Linked DNA regions of Homo sapiens: all the other regions are reported to be linked to region 3. The links are microRNA targets in miRTarBase. Many come from high-throughput screens and were not tested one by one. Region 3 holds a microRNA gene; each other region holds the end of a gene's coding sequence.

Evidence for each region. The annotated mature microRNA hsa-miR-6871-5p reads CAUGGGAGUUCGGGGUGGUUGC and lies in region 3 at 1,732-1,753, opposite strand. An mRNA with a match to its seed (bases 2 to 7 or 8) in the 3' UTR can be bound and repressed. Matches are read on the target gene's strand: a 7mer-m8 pairs with bases 2 to 8, a 7mer-A1 pairs with bases 2 to 7 and ends in A, and an 8mer does both.
Region 1: miRTarBase lists TIGD5 as a target of hsa-miR-6871-5p. Seed matches in the 3' UTR shown: 7mer-m8 at 830-836.
Region 2: the mRNA of CCNB1IP1 is a reported target of hsa-miR-6871-5p. The part of its 3' UTR that is shown has no 7-base or 8-base seed match.
Region 4: miRTarBase lists IDS as a target of hsa-miR-6871-5p. Seed matches in the 3' UTR shown: 7mer-m8 at 2,861-2,867.

Annotation. Positions count from the first base shown.
Region 1 is chr8:143,599,064-143,603,063 of GRCh38, forward strand. It overlaps TIGD5 (tigger transposable element derived 5), which reads left to right. Exons shown (of 1, transcript NM_032862.5): 1 at 1-4,000. The coding sequence ends at 769. Among named protein-coding and RNA genes, the nearest start is that of TIGD5, 3.2 kb to the left of the region's middle.
Region 2 is chr14:20,308,057-20,312,056 of GRCh38, reverse strand. It overlaps CCNB1IP1 (cyclin B1 interacting protein 1), which reads left to right. Exons shown (of 7, transcript NM_021178.5): 7 at 305-687. The coding sequence ends at 507. Among named protein-coding and RNA genes, the nearest start is that of TTC5, 4.1 kb to the right of the region's middle. RefSeq lists a silencer at 2,980-3,180.
Region 3 is chr20:41,166,632-41,170,780 of GRCh38, reverse strand. It overlaps MIR6871 (microRNA 6871), which reads right to left and starts at 1,758; the gene lies at 1,703-1,758. PLCG1 (phospholipase C gamma 1) reads right to left here. Exons shown (of 32, transcript NM_002660.3): 19 at 3,922-4,102; 20 at 2,852-2,929; 21 at 1,911-2,014; 22 at 1,606-1,702; 23 at 1,255-1,324; 24 at 512-669.
Region 4 is chrX:149,479,186-149,483,185 of GRCh38, reverse strand. It overlaps IDS (iduronate 2-sulfatase), which reads left to right. Exons shown (of 9, transcript NM_000202.8): 9 at 1-4,000. The coding sequence ends at 440. Among named protein-coding and RNA genes, the nearest start is that of IDS, 24 kb to the left of the region's middle.

The DNA of each region.
Region 1 (4,000 bases), not on the chromosome of region 3:
TCCCCCGGAGGAGCTGCAGACACCGGATGGCGCTGTGCGGGTGCTGTTCCTGTCCAAAGGCAGCAGCCGGGCACATATCCCCGCACCGCTGGAGCAGGGCGTGGTGGCCGCCTTCAAACAGCTGTACAAGCGCGAGCTGCTGCGACTGGCTGTGTCCTGCGCCAGCGGCTCCCCGCTGGACTTCATGCGCAGCTTCATGCTCAAGGACATGCTCTACCTGGCTGGCCTCTCCTGGGACCTGGTGCAGGCGGGCAGCATTGAGCGCTGCTGGCTGCTGGGCCTGCGGGCTGCCTTCGAGCCCCGGCCCGGCGAGGACAGTGCTGGGCAGCCGGCCCAGGCCGAGGAAGCCGCCGAGCACAGCAGGGTGCTCAGCGACCTCACCCACCTGGCGGCTCTGGCCTACAAGTGCCTGGCTCCGGAGGAGGTTGCGGAGTGGCTGCACCTGGACGATGATGGGGGTCCGCCCGAGGGCTGCAGGGAGGAGGTGGGCCCAGCCCTGCCCCCTGCAGCGCCTCCGGCCCCAGCCAGTCTGCCCTCTGCCATGGGGGGCGGAGAGGACGAGGAGGAGGCCACCGACTATGGAGGGACCTCAGTGCCGACTGCCGGGGAGGCCGTGCGGGGGCTAGAAACAGCTCTGCGGTGGCTGGAGAACCAGGACCCCAGAGAGGTGGGGCCACTGAGGCTGGTGCAGTTGCGCTCACTCATCAGCATGGCCCGGAGGCTGGGGGGCATCGGGCATACCCCAGCAGGCCCCTATGACGGTGTGTGACCAGGCCAGCCCAGTGACCTTTCTCCTGCTGCACTTGGAGGGAGGGGACATACACACAGTCTCCCATCTCTCCTCCCCTCCCCCTGGGGTGGCCCACCGCATGGGTACAGGGGGTTCCAGGAATCCAAATCCAGCATGGCTTGGAGGAGCTCTGTTGGTGAGAGGTCGCCCTGCCTCACTGGCACCCTGGGGGCACAGCTGGAAGAGAGGCCTGGCCCATGCTCCTCTCAGGGCAGGCACATGTACGGGGCATACAAGGCACAGCGCCTGTTGGAACAGGTGGCTGTGTTCCTGCTCTGGCCCCCGTGGGGCTGGGCCTCCGCCCCTGCACCAGTCACATGCACTGGACGAGGGCCGAAACTCCTGTCTGCTATCGAGCCCTGGTGCTATGTGGCCCCGGAGCCACAGCACAATCATCTCAGTGGCGAAGCACACCACTTGATTCTATTTTTTTTTAACACATTAAATCTGTTTTTAAAGATACTCTTCAGAGGGGCCGTGAGAACAGGGGCCGGGTGGGCTGGTCTCGGGCCGCCCTGCGGTTTCTCTGGAGGTCAGAGGCCCCAGGTACTGGAGCATCACTGTGGAGTGGGAGGGGTGGAGCCCTGTATTAGGTTCTGGGTGCAGCAGGGAGGTGTAGAGTTCCGTTTCCTTGGATTTTTAGTTTTCCCTAAGAAAACTGAACAGATCTCTTATTCCGTGGGATTGGCAGCTGCCTGGCTTTGGGCCCTGGTGACTTGGCCAACGGCAGGAGAGTTTCCCCTGCTTCCTCATCAGCCACAGACCATTCTGTCCAGTCCCAGGGCCTGGAGCCACCTGACTTACCTGGAAGCAGGCCCTGGCATTAGCCCCCAGGGCAATACGCAGTGCCACCCTCTGTGGGCTCTCCTCCCCACCCTCAGACTTTTCTGCCTCTCCTGGGACTGCCAAGGATGTGGCTGACAAGCTGCTCCTGGGAGGCCTACTTTGAAAGGAGGAAAGGGCCCCAGGGCCTGTCAAACCCTGGTTCTGTTCTGCTCTGGCCAGGTCTAGACCTACAGTCCTTCTGGTTGGACTGGGGCCAGGGATGCCCATGCCTCCTCAGGTAGGGTGGGAACTGCCTTTGCAGAGATGCTGCCCGAGCTGGTGTGAGGGGCAGGGAGCTGGCCTGCTTGCCTCCAGGTGTTGACCCCTCGTCCCCATCTGCCCCCAGTGTCCTCCTAGGAGAGGGAACCTTGAAAACCCAGAGTTGTGGAGTGCAGGGGTAGGCTGGAGGCCTGCACGGGGAAGGGAAGGGCTGTGCACCAGCTTGGCAGTGGGGCAGCTGGAGGGTGTCCCCCAAAAGTGACCTTTATACAGGTCCAGGAACAAACAGTTCCTTGGAACTGCCCGCAAGTGAAGAAATATATACATATATATGTATATATCTATATCTCAAAATCTGAGAGCTCAGGGAGGCCGTGGAAATTTGGGGAAGAAGAAACAGACTCCCTGAGCAGAGCTCAGGGCAGCAGCTCCAGGCATGCCTGCTGAGCCCATCAGGCCACCGCCACCTGCAGGAAGAGCCTCTGGCCTGAACTGCTGGGGATGGGCTGCAGAAAGCCTGAGACATTTGGGCCAGCACCTTCCCAGGGGCACAGGCCCCCAAGGCGGGGACACCACCTCTGCTCTGCCAGGCCTGCCTCCAGGGCTCTGAGGAGAAGCTGACTTCACGGCCGCGGTGCCAGTGAGGGCTGCATAGCCAGGCCTTGTCTGTAGTCTGGGCGGCCCGTGGCGCTGCCCTTCAGCCCAACTACTCATTGCCGCTGCGTCTTTGGCGAGGCTTTCATTTCCAACCTTTCTTCCCATCTCAGCCCTTTTGTTGGCCCGGGTCCCAGGAGGCTGGTGTCGGTGAGGGCAGGCCCGCTCCTCTCATCGGGGTGGCTGTGGCCTGTCCCCCAGTCCCTCAATGGCCACTTTCTATAAACAAGGCAGCACTAATTTTTGCTATAAGATAAAAGAGGCCAGGCACGTTGGCTCACACCTGTCATCCCAGCACTTTGGGAGGCTGAGGCGGGTGGATCACCTGAGATTGGGAGTTCGAGACCAGCCTGGCCAACATGGTGAAAACCCCGTCTCTACTAAAAATACAAAAATTAGCTGGGCGTGGTGGCAGGTGCCTGTAACCCTAGCTACTCAGGAGGCTGAGGCACGAGAAATGCTTGAAGCCAGAAGGCAGAGATTGCAGTGAGCCAAGATCACAACACCGCGCTCCAGTCTGCGCGACAGAGCGAGACTCTGTCTCAAAAAAAAAAAAAAAAAAGTGCAGGTGCACGCTGGTGGGGACATTAGGAGCCTGTCAAGAGTGGGTCTGCCTGCTGGCACTTACTAGACGGGAAATACCCCCTAAAGAGGGCTTAAAAAGCATCTTCTCCCTAGCACGGGGCATGCTGGCACAGGGTGCTGTGTGACAGAGGCTTGGCCGCTGGGCCCCGCTGCTGAGAAGGCTGCTCTGCCCATGCCTGGCCCTGTGGGCAGTGCCAGCCATGGATCCCTGAGACCCTGGGCTGGAACCTGGGGCCCCGTCCCAGCCCTACCTGCAGCTCACTAACCCTCTCTGGGTTCTGCTCAGTGTCTGAAGTGATGGAAAGACCCCAGGGTTGGTGGCTGTAGCGGCCCCCAGGGGTGGCAGAACCCTTTGGGAGGCCAAGTGTTCTTTCCCAAAGCTGCGCGGGTGCCATCGCCTGCCAGGCCCTGGCTGTGGTGACAGACGTGGGCTGGGGTGAGGCTGCATCTGCTTCCTCTAACAGCCGTGGCTGCCTGCGGGCTCTGGCCTCCGCTCTGGCAGATTCTGCACATTCCCTGCAGGCGCAGGGGTGGGTGGGGGTGCCTGTGGCCTCGGAGGTACAGCCAGCTGTCCTCAGCTCAGATGGCCCCCAAGAGCCCCCAGCTCCTGTTCACTGCTCTTCCAGTTAGTGACCCCCGTGTCAGCATCATTGTCAGAGTTCCTGGGCTTGTGGGGGCTGGAGAAGGGAAGGCGCTGAGGAGGGAAAGATGAGTGCAGGTTTTGTTGAAACCACCCGACCCGCGTTTTCAGGGGGACGAGGCCACTGCCTTGGCCCAAGGACCTGCAGGCTTGGGGGACCCCCTCGATGTCCACTGGGCTGCGGATGAAACATCACACTGTGGTAGGAAAGGAAGGGGAGCACCCCCAGACGGGGGGGTCCTGCAGAGACCCCAACCCCTTACCTACCTAGTTGAGACACCCATGGG
Region 2 (4,000 bases), not on the chromosome of region 3:
GTGGAAGTAGTTAAATGTTAATTTAATCAGATCTATTATCTGCTTGTCTTAAGCCTATGCTAATTGATATTGGGTCATGGTATATGCCAATATTTCAGTTATATTTTTTCTAGAATGTTTATTGCAATGTTTTTTTAAAAAAATTCTTAACCTGGGGTAAAAGATTTTATATGTCTGTTTTTTTCTAAGACAAATATTGGAGAAAAAATATATATTCATATATATATATTTGATGATTCCTCTGAAGTAGATTATATAGATAACAAATGAATAAAATTATGTTTTTCCTTTTTTTCTGCCCTAGGTAACAACTCCAAGTTTCCTTTGGATAATACACCTGTTCGAAATCGGGGCGATGGAGATGGAGATTTTCAGTTCAGACCATTTTTTGCGGGTTCTCCCACAGCACCTGAACCCAGCAACAGCTTTTTTAGTTTTGTCTCTCCAAGTCGTGAATTAGAGCAGCAGCAAGTTTCTAGCAGGGCCTTCAAAGTAAAAAGAATTTGAGCCACGCATAGTGTCACGCACCTGTGATCCCAGCTACTTAGGAGGTTGAGGCTGGGAGGATCACTTGAGCCCAGGAGTCTGAGGCTTTAGTGATCTAAGATCATGCCACTGCACTCCAGCCTGGGCAACAGAGTGAGACCCTGTTTCTAAAAAAAAATAAAGATAATTTAGCTAACTTTACAGACTGTTTCTATGTTCATCTTTAGTGATTTCATTTAGCAAATCTTTTTTCTTTTTTTTTTTTTTTTTAACTTTTTTTTTTAATTTTTATTTTTTTTATTGATCATTCTTGGGTGTTTCTCGCAGAGGGGGATTTGGCAGGGTCATAGGACAATAGTGGAGGGAAGGTTGGCAGATAAACAAGTGAACAAAGGTCTCTGGTTTTCCTAGGCAGAGGACCCTGCAGCCTTCCGCAGTGTTTGTGTCCCTGGGTACTTGAGATTAGGGAGTGGTGATGATTCTTAACGAGCATGCTGCCTTCAAGCATCTGTTTAACAAAGCACATCTTGCACCGCCCTTAATCCATTTAACCCTGAGTGGACACAGCACATGTTTCAGAGGGCACAGGGTTGGGGGTAAGGTCACCGATCAACAGGATCCCAAGGCAGAAGAATTTATCTTAGTACAGAACAAAATGAAAAGTCTCCCATGTCTACTTCTTTCTACACAGACACGGCAACCATCCGATTTCTCTATCTTTTCCCCACATTTCCCCCCTTTCTATTCCACAAAACCGCCATTGTCATCCCGGCCCGTTCTCAAAGAGCTGTTGGGTACACCTCCCAGACGAGGTGGTGGCTGGGCAGAGGGGCTCCTCACTTCCTAGTAGGGGTGGCCGGGCAGAGTCGCCCCTCACCTCCCGGACGGGGCGGCTGGCCGGGCGGGGGGCTGACCCCCCCACCTCCCTCCCGGACGGGGCGGCTGGCCGGGCGGGGGGCTGGCCCCCCCACCTCCCTCCCGGACGGGGCGGCTGGCTGGGCAGAGGGGCTCCTCACTTCCCAGTAGGGGCGGCTGGGCAGAGGCGCCCCTCACCTCCTGGACGGGGCAGCTGGCCGGGCGGGGGGCTGACCCCCCCACCTCCCTCCCGGACGGGGCGGCTGGCTGGGCAGAGGGGCTCCTCACTTCCCAGTAGGGGCGGCCGGGCAGAGGCGCCCCTCACCTCCCGGACGGGGCGGCTGGCCGGGTGGGGGGCTGACCCCCCCACCTCCCTCCCGGACGGGGCGGCTGGCCGGGCGGGGGGCTGACTCCCCCACCTCCCTCCTGGACGGGGTGGCTGGCCAGGCAGAGGGGCTCCTCACTTCCCAGTAGGGGCGGCTGGGCAGAGGCGCCCCTCACCTCCCGGACGGGGCGTCTGGCCGGGTGGGGGGCTGACTCCCCCACCTCCCTCCCGGACGGGGCGGCTGCCGGGCGGAGACGCTCCTCACTTCCCAGACGGGGTGGCTGCCGGGCGGAGGGGCTCCTCACTTCTCAGATGGGGCGGATGCTGGGCGGAGGGTCTCCTCACTTCTCAGACGGGGCGGCTGGGCAGAGACGCTCCTCACCTCCCAGACGGGGCGGCGGGGCAGAGGCGCTCCCCACATCTCAGACGATGGGCGGCCGGGCAGAGACGCTCCTCACTTCCCAGACGGGATGGCTGCCAGGAAGAGGCGCTCCTCACTTCCTAGATGGGATGGCGGCCGGTCAGAGACGCTCCTCACTTTCCAGACTGGGCAGCCAGGCAGAGGGGCTCCTCACGTCCCAGACGATGGGCGGCCAGGCAGAGACGCTCCTCACTTCCCAGACGGGGTGGCGGCCGGGCAGAGGCTGCAATCTCGGCACTTTGGGAGGCCAAGGCAGGCGGCTGGGAGATGGAGGTTGTAGCGAGCTGAGATCATGCCACTGCACTCCAGCCTGGGCACCATTGAGCACTGAGTGAACCAGACTCCGTCTGCAATCCCGGCACCTCGGGAGGCCAAGGCTGGCGGATCACTCGCGGTTAGGAGCTGGAGACCAGCCCGGCCAACACAGTGAAACCCCGTCTCCACCAAAAAAGTACGAAAACCAGTCAGGCGTGGTGGCGCGCGCCTGCAATCGCAGGCCCTCGGCAGGCTGAGGCAGGAGAATCAGGCAGGGAGGTTGCAGTGAACCGAGATGGCAGCAGTACAGTCCAGTTTCGGCTCGGCATCAGAGGGAGACAGTGGAAAGAGAGGGAGAGGGAGACCGAGAGGGAGAGGGGAGAGGGGAGAGGGGAGAGGGGAGAGGGGAGAGGGAGAGGGAGAGGCAGAGGCAGAGGCAGGGGCAGGGGCAGGGTAGCAAATCTTTTTTCTAGATAGGACTCCCCAGCTTCTCTGTGCTTTTAAGTCTCTGAAGTTGTTTTCACATTATCAACATAACAAACTCATTGGCAGTGGGGAGTGGTTTAGAGTCTGGTTTCTTTGTTTCTATTATTTAAAGCATAAGCATTTTATTAGTCTCAATTCCATTGTGAACTGCTGAATTTTCATCCCTAGTGTGAGAAGGTCACAATAGTATTTGTTTCAATAGATAACTCTTTCTCCCTGTGCTGTTTCTCACTGAGCTGTGGTGTTTATGCCTTAAGTACCTGTGTTATATGCTACATGTTGCTTTGAATTCTGGTATTTATGCATATCTGTATATGTAAGTATGTTAATGTACACTGATATTTTGCTGTATTTGCCAGTATGTTTATGTGAAAATTTTGGTCTTGGAAAATGGTGGGTGATGTGTAGCTTGTTATTTGGGTGTGTGTATTTATTTGTATATATTTATGTATTTACCTTCGTATTGTTTGGAGGTGTGCTTATGTCAGTGAACGAGAGTACAATTTGATGCATGTATGTTCAGTCCCTATTTGTATTTAAAAATAACTCACGTTGATGAAGTTATTTTTTAAAGTTAATTTTTTTGGCATTTACAGTCGGTGCTCTGTATCCATAGGTTCTGCTTCTGCAGATTCAGCCAACCATATATCAAAAATATTTGAGAAAAAATAATATAAAAAAATACAAATTAAAAACCAATACTATATAACAACTATTTGGATAGCATTTACATTGTAGGTATTATAAATAATTTAGAGGTGATTTAAAGTATTTGGGAGAATCTGTAGGTTATATGCAAATACCATGCCATTTTATAAAAGTGACATGAACATCCAAGGATTTTGGTATCCATGAGGGTTCCTGGAACCAATCCCCCAAAGATACCAAAGGAAGACTGTATTTTAAAATAAAGCTACTTCTTTACCTTTTTGTCAACTATTGCCTTGGGTTTACTTATTTAGGAATGCACTTCTGCAGAAAGTTTACCAATGTGTTATTGATCTCGAGATTGTATTAAAATAAAAGATTTATTTATTGTTTTCCTTTATTTAGTGAGTATTTCTGACTATTATTATGGGAATTAAATTGTTTATGCATTTATTTATTTAAAATGTAGAGCCATGATAGAAATTTGAAGGACATTCTCAGTAACTTTATGTCCTGTTAGAGGA
Region 3 (4,149 bases):
ACTTGCAAGTTCTTATCGTTCCTGTCTTTACCTCTGTAGCTCTCAACACAGCAGACCCTCTCCCTCACCAGTGGCCTGCAGTCTGTCTGACCTGCCTTTCCTGGGCTCCTTTCCTCGCCCATGCCTTCTCATATGGAGCTTCTCAATCCATCCCAAGTTCTCTTCCTATGCGACACCACCTCATCCCTTCTATGCCTCAGCCCCCACTCCACTCCTGCTTCCAGCCCAGGACTTCTCCTCTTACCTCTGGTCTTGTGTATCCAATTGCCCACTAAGCAGACCCACTTCAACGACCCATCAGTATCTCAAACTCAACACAACCTAAACACACCACATTGCATCTTATGTGTCTGTTTCTTCTCAATCCCTAGCTAAGGCAGGGGCTGTGGCCTATCTAGCATAGGCCATCGGCTGCCCCACTGCTCTGAGGGGGCCTGTGCTGGGAGCTGGAGGCCTCAGCTGCCTGACGGGCCCACACACTGCCCCCCAGAAGGTTCCAGCAGAATCTCACCCTGGCGTCTGCTGTCTGGGCCACTTCACGGATCTTTTTCACCCAGTCCTGCAGCTCCTCCTGTGAGTCGGCAGCAACATCCAGGGACCAGTGGGCCACCGACGCCATGCTGATGGAGAAGACGAAGAGCCGGTTGTTCTTGCCCTCAGGACGGATGGCTGGGAGGGCGAGAGCAGATAACAGCTGGGAATAGACATCTCACCCCCTCCACCCCACTCCACACCGCAGGCACTGGCTCAAATGAGTTCTATCTCATCCCATTTCCTCCTTCCCACACCCCATGAGGGGAAGGACTACTCTGCTGGCCCATTTGACAGATGACGACGCTACAACTCAAACAAGTCACTGCTGGTTGTGGTGGAGCCAGTGTTCCAACTCAGCTCTGACTCATGCTTCTTCCTCAGGCCGTGTCTCCCTCTCCACCCCATCTCCAAGCCTCTGTCACATCCCTGTGGTACAACCCATTAGGCCTGGGGATGTCAGCCAACCAGCAGCATCAACTTTGTTCTGCTGATTCTGACGGGTTCCCCAGTGCCTGGCATAGGTAAACATGCAGGGGTCAAAGCTGACAGTGACAAAGGGAGCCCAGGGTGTCAAGGGGATGTCCAGAGCATGGGGAGAGCTTGGAGTGAGGGCAGACTTTGGGGTTCAGCCATCAGCTTCCTCCCTAGGAGCAGGAAAGAGATACAAAGAAGAATCTCACCCTAGGGAACAGTGGGCAAGAGAAACAGATGGGAGCTCACCAATCTGACAAGCCGGCACATCCAAGACCCCCCGCAGCAAGTCCCCTAGGGGGCTGTTCTCGTCCAAGTGCTGTGGGAAGCAAAGCCCACCAATGGTCAGCATGGCTACTGCATATGTGTGTGAGGGGATATCCGTGTGCATGGGACAAATACATCTTGTGGGTGTACCTGTGACTGCCAAATGTAGCACAGGTATATGGGAGACTACGTGCATGGCCACATGGGCTGTGCGACCAGCCCATGTGACAGGTGTCTGTGCATGCACGTGCGTGCTTGGGACTGTGTGATGGGGGCATGCCAAGGAGAATCTGGGAATAGGGAATGCTGTTACTCAGGTGGTTCTGGTCTTACCTCCCTCTCCGGCTCCAGGGCCACGGGGTTGACCATCTCTTCCACGTAGTTTGATGGGAACCACAGCTGCTTCTTCCCTCCGTAGTCCCCTCGCCACCTGTGGGAGCCACAGGGTGCTGACCTCCAGCAACCACCCCGAACTCCCATGAGGAGGGTATCCTTTGGTAGGGGTTCCCATGCCTAAGCCAGGGTGAGGCAGGCACTGCTGGTGCACACAGGAGACAAGCACATCACAAATGCATGTCTTTGGGGCCCCAGCTCCACTGGGGCCCTTGGACTCTGGGCCTACCACACCACTGGCTTACCAGCCTCCCTCTTGCTTCTCCACATTCTGGATGATGGCGCTCTTGATGAAGGTCAGCTCGTCCTCCCTCTGGGCCTTGTAGTCAAAGAGGGCTTTGACTGCACACTGCAGAGGTGAGAAGCACCAGTCAGAGCAGAAAGGCTCTCCCTGCCACTGCCAACCTGGGGCTTCATGTGCACACACACATGTGCTTGGGCTTCCCTGCCTGGGGTCAGGCCAGTGGGAGATGACACTGCCATCAACAGGCCCTAGTTATAGTTCTTGTTACTGCCCTGCAGGGAAGCTCCAGGACAGATATGATCAGAGAGGCAGGGCCTCTGCCAGTGAAATACCTCGGGACCCAGGTGGAACCTTAAGCCCCACCCTGGGCCACAGGGAGAACCTTGAATCCGCTCCCAGGAGTCAGGGCTGGCAGGCCAAGAAGGCAGGGTCTGCAGTGGCCCTGAGTGCCTCCCCGGGACCTGGAAGCATATGGGGCCTGGATGGGACCCTACCACTCATCTGTGAAGTGGAAAGAAAAACTTCCTTCCAGGTCCCCTGGCTGTGGAGGGGAGGGGGTGAGAAATAGGGCCCAGGCCTTTTTAGAGAAAAAGGCAAAACAAAAAAGAACCTGTGTAACAGGGCTCCATGAGGCCGGGGAATGAGTGGCCAGTGTGCCTCCCAGCTCCTACCCCGCTGCTGCCCAGGAAGGAAACAGGGGTCACCCACAGGAGCAGTTTAAAGGGTCACTGCTGACTTAAGGGGTAGGGGCTAGGGAGTGGGTCGGCCCTGGGAGACCTGCGGTCGCTCACCAACCACACATCTCTCACAACCTCTTGGGCCTCGGAAAACCACAACCACCACTTCTCCACAAAGACCACAGATGGCCCAGAACACAGAAATGAAGCCCCAAGCAGCTGGGGACCCTCCCCAGCTTCCTATGCCCAGAGGCCTGAGCTGTACCTTGAAAGTTGGCATAGGGTTTGCCTCTACATAGAAGCCAGGGTTGCGTCCCTCATACAGGGCCCCGTAGTCAGGCTCCTGGAAACAGGACACAATGGGATATGTTAATGCCCCAGAGCCCAGAGGTAGAAAGCAGCTACTGGTTTCTGGAGCAGCTTCCCTTTCCCCCAGTGCAGCAAACTTGCACCTGATCCACAGGGATCCTTCGACCTCAGTAGAGACGGCTTCAGAGGCCTCAGGCCCGGCCTCACTGTTCCCTTTCCTTTCTTCACATTCTTACATGTAAGGCCCAGCCCAGGATTCTAAAATCTCTCAGGTCCTAAATGCCCAAACTCCCAAGTATTTCTGAGCTATGTGCAGGTGGGCCCTTCACAGACTACCCATATTCAGTGCTTTAGTTCAGTGGCTTGTTGGTTCACTGCTGAGCCCAAAGTCAGGAAAAGCCTTCCCACTCCCCACATTCCTCCTGCCGCTCCTCTCCATCACTTGAGTCCCAGGTGCCAGTGGACAACAGGCCTCTCTCTCCCCAGCCAGCCCTGTCTACTGACGACAGCAGTCTCTCAACTGATCTTCTGGTCCTAGACCCCTTCCTTCTGTCCAGGGCCCTTATCACCAGCTGTGCTGCCATGGGTCCTGACTTTTTCCCTCACTGGTCTCACCTCCTGTGGCTCTGCCCTCCATACCATCCACCAGGCGGAGGCTCCACAACCACTCTTGGGTAGCCTCATCTCATCTGCCCTAGGACAGAGTCCAGGCCAAGCCCAGGTGGATGAGTTTCCACTGTGTGCACCTCTCCCAGTGTGAGCCCCAGAACCTCCTCACTCCACATCTTGACTCATGAGGAACCCTCTGCTTATGTGCCTGTCCCCATCCTTAAAGATGCTGCTCAGATGTCCCCTCCTGCAGACACCCTCCTGGTACCCACACTGTGGCTCCCAGCTGGAGTCAGGGGCCCTCCCACGAACTTCTACAACACACCAGGTCTTGCTGTTACACACATCCAGAGACTGGTAAGATTCTGGGTCTCTCCTGCCTCCCCTGCCATGCCCCGTCTACCACAGCCCCCTCACAGCTGTGCCAATCTTCTCCAGTGCCTCCTCGTTGATGGGATAGCGCAGCTTCATCTTGCGGTATAGCGGGTGTTTCTCATAGTAGCTGATGAGGTCAACAAGGCTGTCGAACTCCGAGTTCCCTAGCATCACTGTCTGGCCCTCTTGCTGGACACGGCAATGCTTGATCTTGCCCTCAGCCCTTCACAAGGACAAAACAGTCACACAGGGTCAGGGCAGCTCAGACCC
Region 4 (4,000 bases), not on the chromosome of region 3:
CTCTTTTTCCCACGCTGGCTGGACTTGCAGGACTGCAGGTTCCACCTCGCTGCCCCGTTCCTTCATTTCACGTTGAGCTGTGCAGAGAAGGCAAGAACCTTCTGAAGCATTTTCGATTCCGTGACTTGGAAGAGGATCCGTACCTCCCTGGTAATCCCCGTGAACTGATTGCCTATAGCCAGTATCCCCGGCCTTCAGACATCCCTCAGTGGAATTCTGACAAGCCGAGTTTAAAAGATATAAAGATCATGGGCTATTCCATACGCACCATAGACTATAGGTATACTGTGTGGGTTGGCTTCAATCCTGATGAATTTCTAGCTAACTTTTCTGACATCCATGCAGGGGAACTGTATTTTGTGGATTCTGACCCATTGCAGGATCACAATATGTATAATGATTCCCAAGGTGGAGATCTTTTCCAGTTGTTGATGCCTTGAGTTTTGCCAACCATGGATGGCAAATGTGATGTGCTCCCTTCCAGCTGGTGAGAGGAGGAGTTAGAGCTGGTCGTTTTGTGATTACCCATAATATTGGAAGCAGCCTGAGGGCTAGTTAATCCAAACATGCATCAACAATTTGGCCTGAGAATATGTAACAGCCAAACCTTTTCGTTTAGTCTTTATTAAAATTTATAATTGGTAATTGGACCAGTTTTTTTTTTAATTTCCCTCTTTTTAAAACAGTTACGGCTTATTTACTGAATAAATACAAAGCAAACAAACTCAAGTTATGTCATACCTTTGGATACGAAGACCATACATAATAACCAAACATAACATTATACACAAAGAATACTTTCATTATTTGTGGAATTTAGTGCATTTCAAAAAGTAATCATATATCAAACTAGGCACCACACTAAGTTCCTGATTATTTTGTTTATAATTTAATAATATATCTTATGAGCCCTATATATTCAAAATATTATGTTAACATGTAATCCATGTTTCTTTTTCAAATCTAAAGTTAAAAAAAAATAGCAGAAGCCAGTGTCTTAAAGTCTATCTTTTGTTTCTAAGACCATGGGATTTCATAATCTCAAGATAAAATATGTATGAAGTAATTAATGTAGAATTTTTACACCAAATAATAAATAATGCTTAATAAACTAGAGATATGAGATGTGTAGGAAATTTGGTTAAACTTTTTTCAGATACTTTCTGGCCCAAATAATAATTTGTTAGCAAATAATATGACCCTTGAACTCAATGGCCATCTATTAAAAGACTGTTGTTCACACTGGAAAACATTTAAAGATGTGACTATATCCATGGGTGGATTGAATCACTCAAAATATATTAGTATCCTTCTTTAGGGATGGTTGGTTACAGACATGTATTTATTCAGGAGGCAGAAAATATTCCATTTTAATTGCTTATTAAAGAAAACATTAAATTCTAAATTATTTTGAGGACTGTGAAGACTTTTCATTAGTGTAATATTAGGTCATTGTCAATCTCCCAGAATGTAGTTCTATATTCTCTAAATATGAAAGTATCCAGAAAGGCCAGTGGTAGTAAAAAGCTTAGTGTATATAATCTCAAAAGGGATGGAATATTTACAACTCATATTTATAACATGTTGAATCTTCTCAGTTATCAGTAGTCATCAGAAGTGTCAATAGCTTTCTAAATAAATATTAAATATCTACTGTCCTGTAGTGAAGGAGTAATTTTTAGTAATTTTCTCTTTACAAAGTCTCCAGTGTTTCCAGGTAAATATTTGTGAAACAAAATACAGCAAACTACATTGTTACTTCAGTGTATTGTTGCCAAAAATGACAAGATATTATATTAAAATCAGTAAATTTTAGACAGATTTTAAAAATTAATTAGCCTACAATAGAGGTTATATGGTAACACGGTGATCTTCTAAGCAGTTAAGTGACTGACTGTTCTGGCAACAACGACTTCTCCGTGACTGAAGGGCCCTGTTCATTTCCTGATCCTGAAGCTCGTCTCTCTTTTGAGCCTCCGCTTGCTTTGGTCGATGGTTTCCCTCAGCTTTTTCTTTGCTGTTCTTCATCCTCGTTGTTGCTGTCATCATGTTCACTGTGGCTTTTACAATACAGCCTGTAAATTCCTTATGACATAGTTCAGTGCATTTGGCTTTATTGCCTGCTCCACAGTTCTTTACCTTTACTTGGCTTAGAGAAACTGTATCTTTGTTGCTTCATATAACCTTTCCCCAACCCCACTAAGCTGGACATAACTTATTAGTGGTCCTCCCGTCACTTTATTTGTAGAAATCTCTCTTTCACATGAGCAGGGGTTCTTTCATGTGGTTTAGCTGACAGCAGAACTAGTGATTCTAGACATTTTGCATGGCCCTCATTCAGTGGCTCACAAACATGAGGGAGCATCAGAACTACTTGAGGGGCTTGTTAAAACCCAGTGCGTTAGAAGTCGGATGCGGTGGCTCACACCTGTAATCCCAGCACTTTGGGAGGCCCAGGCAGGCGGATCACTTGAGGTTAGGAGTTCAAGACCAGCCTGGCCAACATGGTGAAACCCCGTCTCTACTAAAAATACAAAAGTTAGCCGGGTGTGGTGGTGCATGCCTGTAATCCCAGCTTCTTGGGAGGCCAAGGCACAAGAATCGCTTGAACCAGGAGACGGAGGTTTCAGTGAATGAAGATCGTGCCATTGTATTCCAGCCTCGGCAACACAGCAGGACTGTGATTTTCTTTGGAGACTCCTAGATTTTCTGTGGTTTTGAACTGAATTTGTTGGATGTTGGCAAGTGCCTCTTATGAGCTGTTTCTTTATCCTGCATTTGCCCCACAAAGACTTATCTGGAGGTGAGCAAAGTATGTTTGGTAGTGAGGTCACAAAGGCAATCAGCCCCTTCCTCCCCACTCCCATTGCCATCTTCTCAGTCCTTCTCCCTTTCTTTCCAAGTAGTTTACCCACCCCTCCTCTTTCCTCCCCTGTCCCTAAAATAATCCACGTGTCTTCCTAAAATCTCTCTTTGATCCTGTCCTTTGATAACACCGTCAGTGCCTACTACTGGGTCTAGACAGACCTCTGTTGAGCAGTCAGAGTCTTCCCTGACTCCACAATGCCCCTTTCCTTGGCTGACCAGTATGACTACTGGTCCCCACCTTTCCCTTGCCTATCCCTACCTCCCTCCTACTAGGTTGTCCCATCCCTCTCTTCACCCATTCATTCATGACCATTTTTCACTACCAAGCTCCCCCCCTCCCGAAGGAGGCTGAGGTTTTTGTGACTCTCTAGACTCTATTGTGGGATGGAATGAACATTGCTAAAGAATCTTGTGTTCGCTTTACTTTAAAAAGGTATTTTTTTCCTAATTATAAAACTGATGTGTCAGTTACGGAAAAATTAGAAATGCAGCACAAATACATGAATATTTTACCACAAAATTGCCATATAATATCTTGTCTTTTTTGGGGGTGTGAATTTTTTGCATTGTTCTGGTCATATTCTTTATCATGTAATTTATGTTCTTTTTTACTAAGTATTATGTGTGGTTATTATAGATTTTCACAAAGATATATTGCTGGTAATATATTTTATTGTGTAGTCTTATAATTTACTTAACCTTCTTTCAATTGTTAGAAATTTAGGCTATTTCCAGATTTTCAGTATTGTAAATAATGCTGTGATGACCAATTTTGTGAATAAAATGTTTTTATGTATTTCAGATTATTCCCTTAGGATAGTCTCTCAGTGCCAAGTTGTCAAAAACATCTCTATTTTGCTTATCTTCCTGCTCTCTTGCTGCCTTAGGGGGTAGTAAACTGAAACATAAAGTAAACATGCATACAAATAAAAAACATAAAACAAAAATAAGCAACCTGATGGTAATAGGTGAAAGTGGTAACCTGTTTTAACTTTGAATTCTTGCCGGGCGCGGTGGCTCACGCCTGTAATCCCAGCACTTTGGGAGGCTGAGGCGGGTGGATCACGAGGTCAGGAGTTCAAAACCAGCCTGGCCAAGATGGTGAAATCCCGTCTCTACTAAAAATACAAAA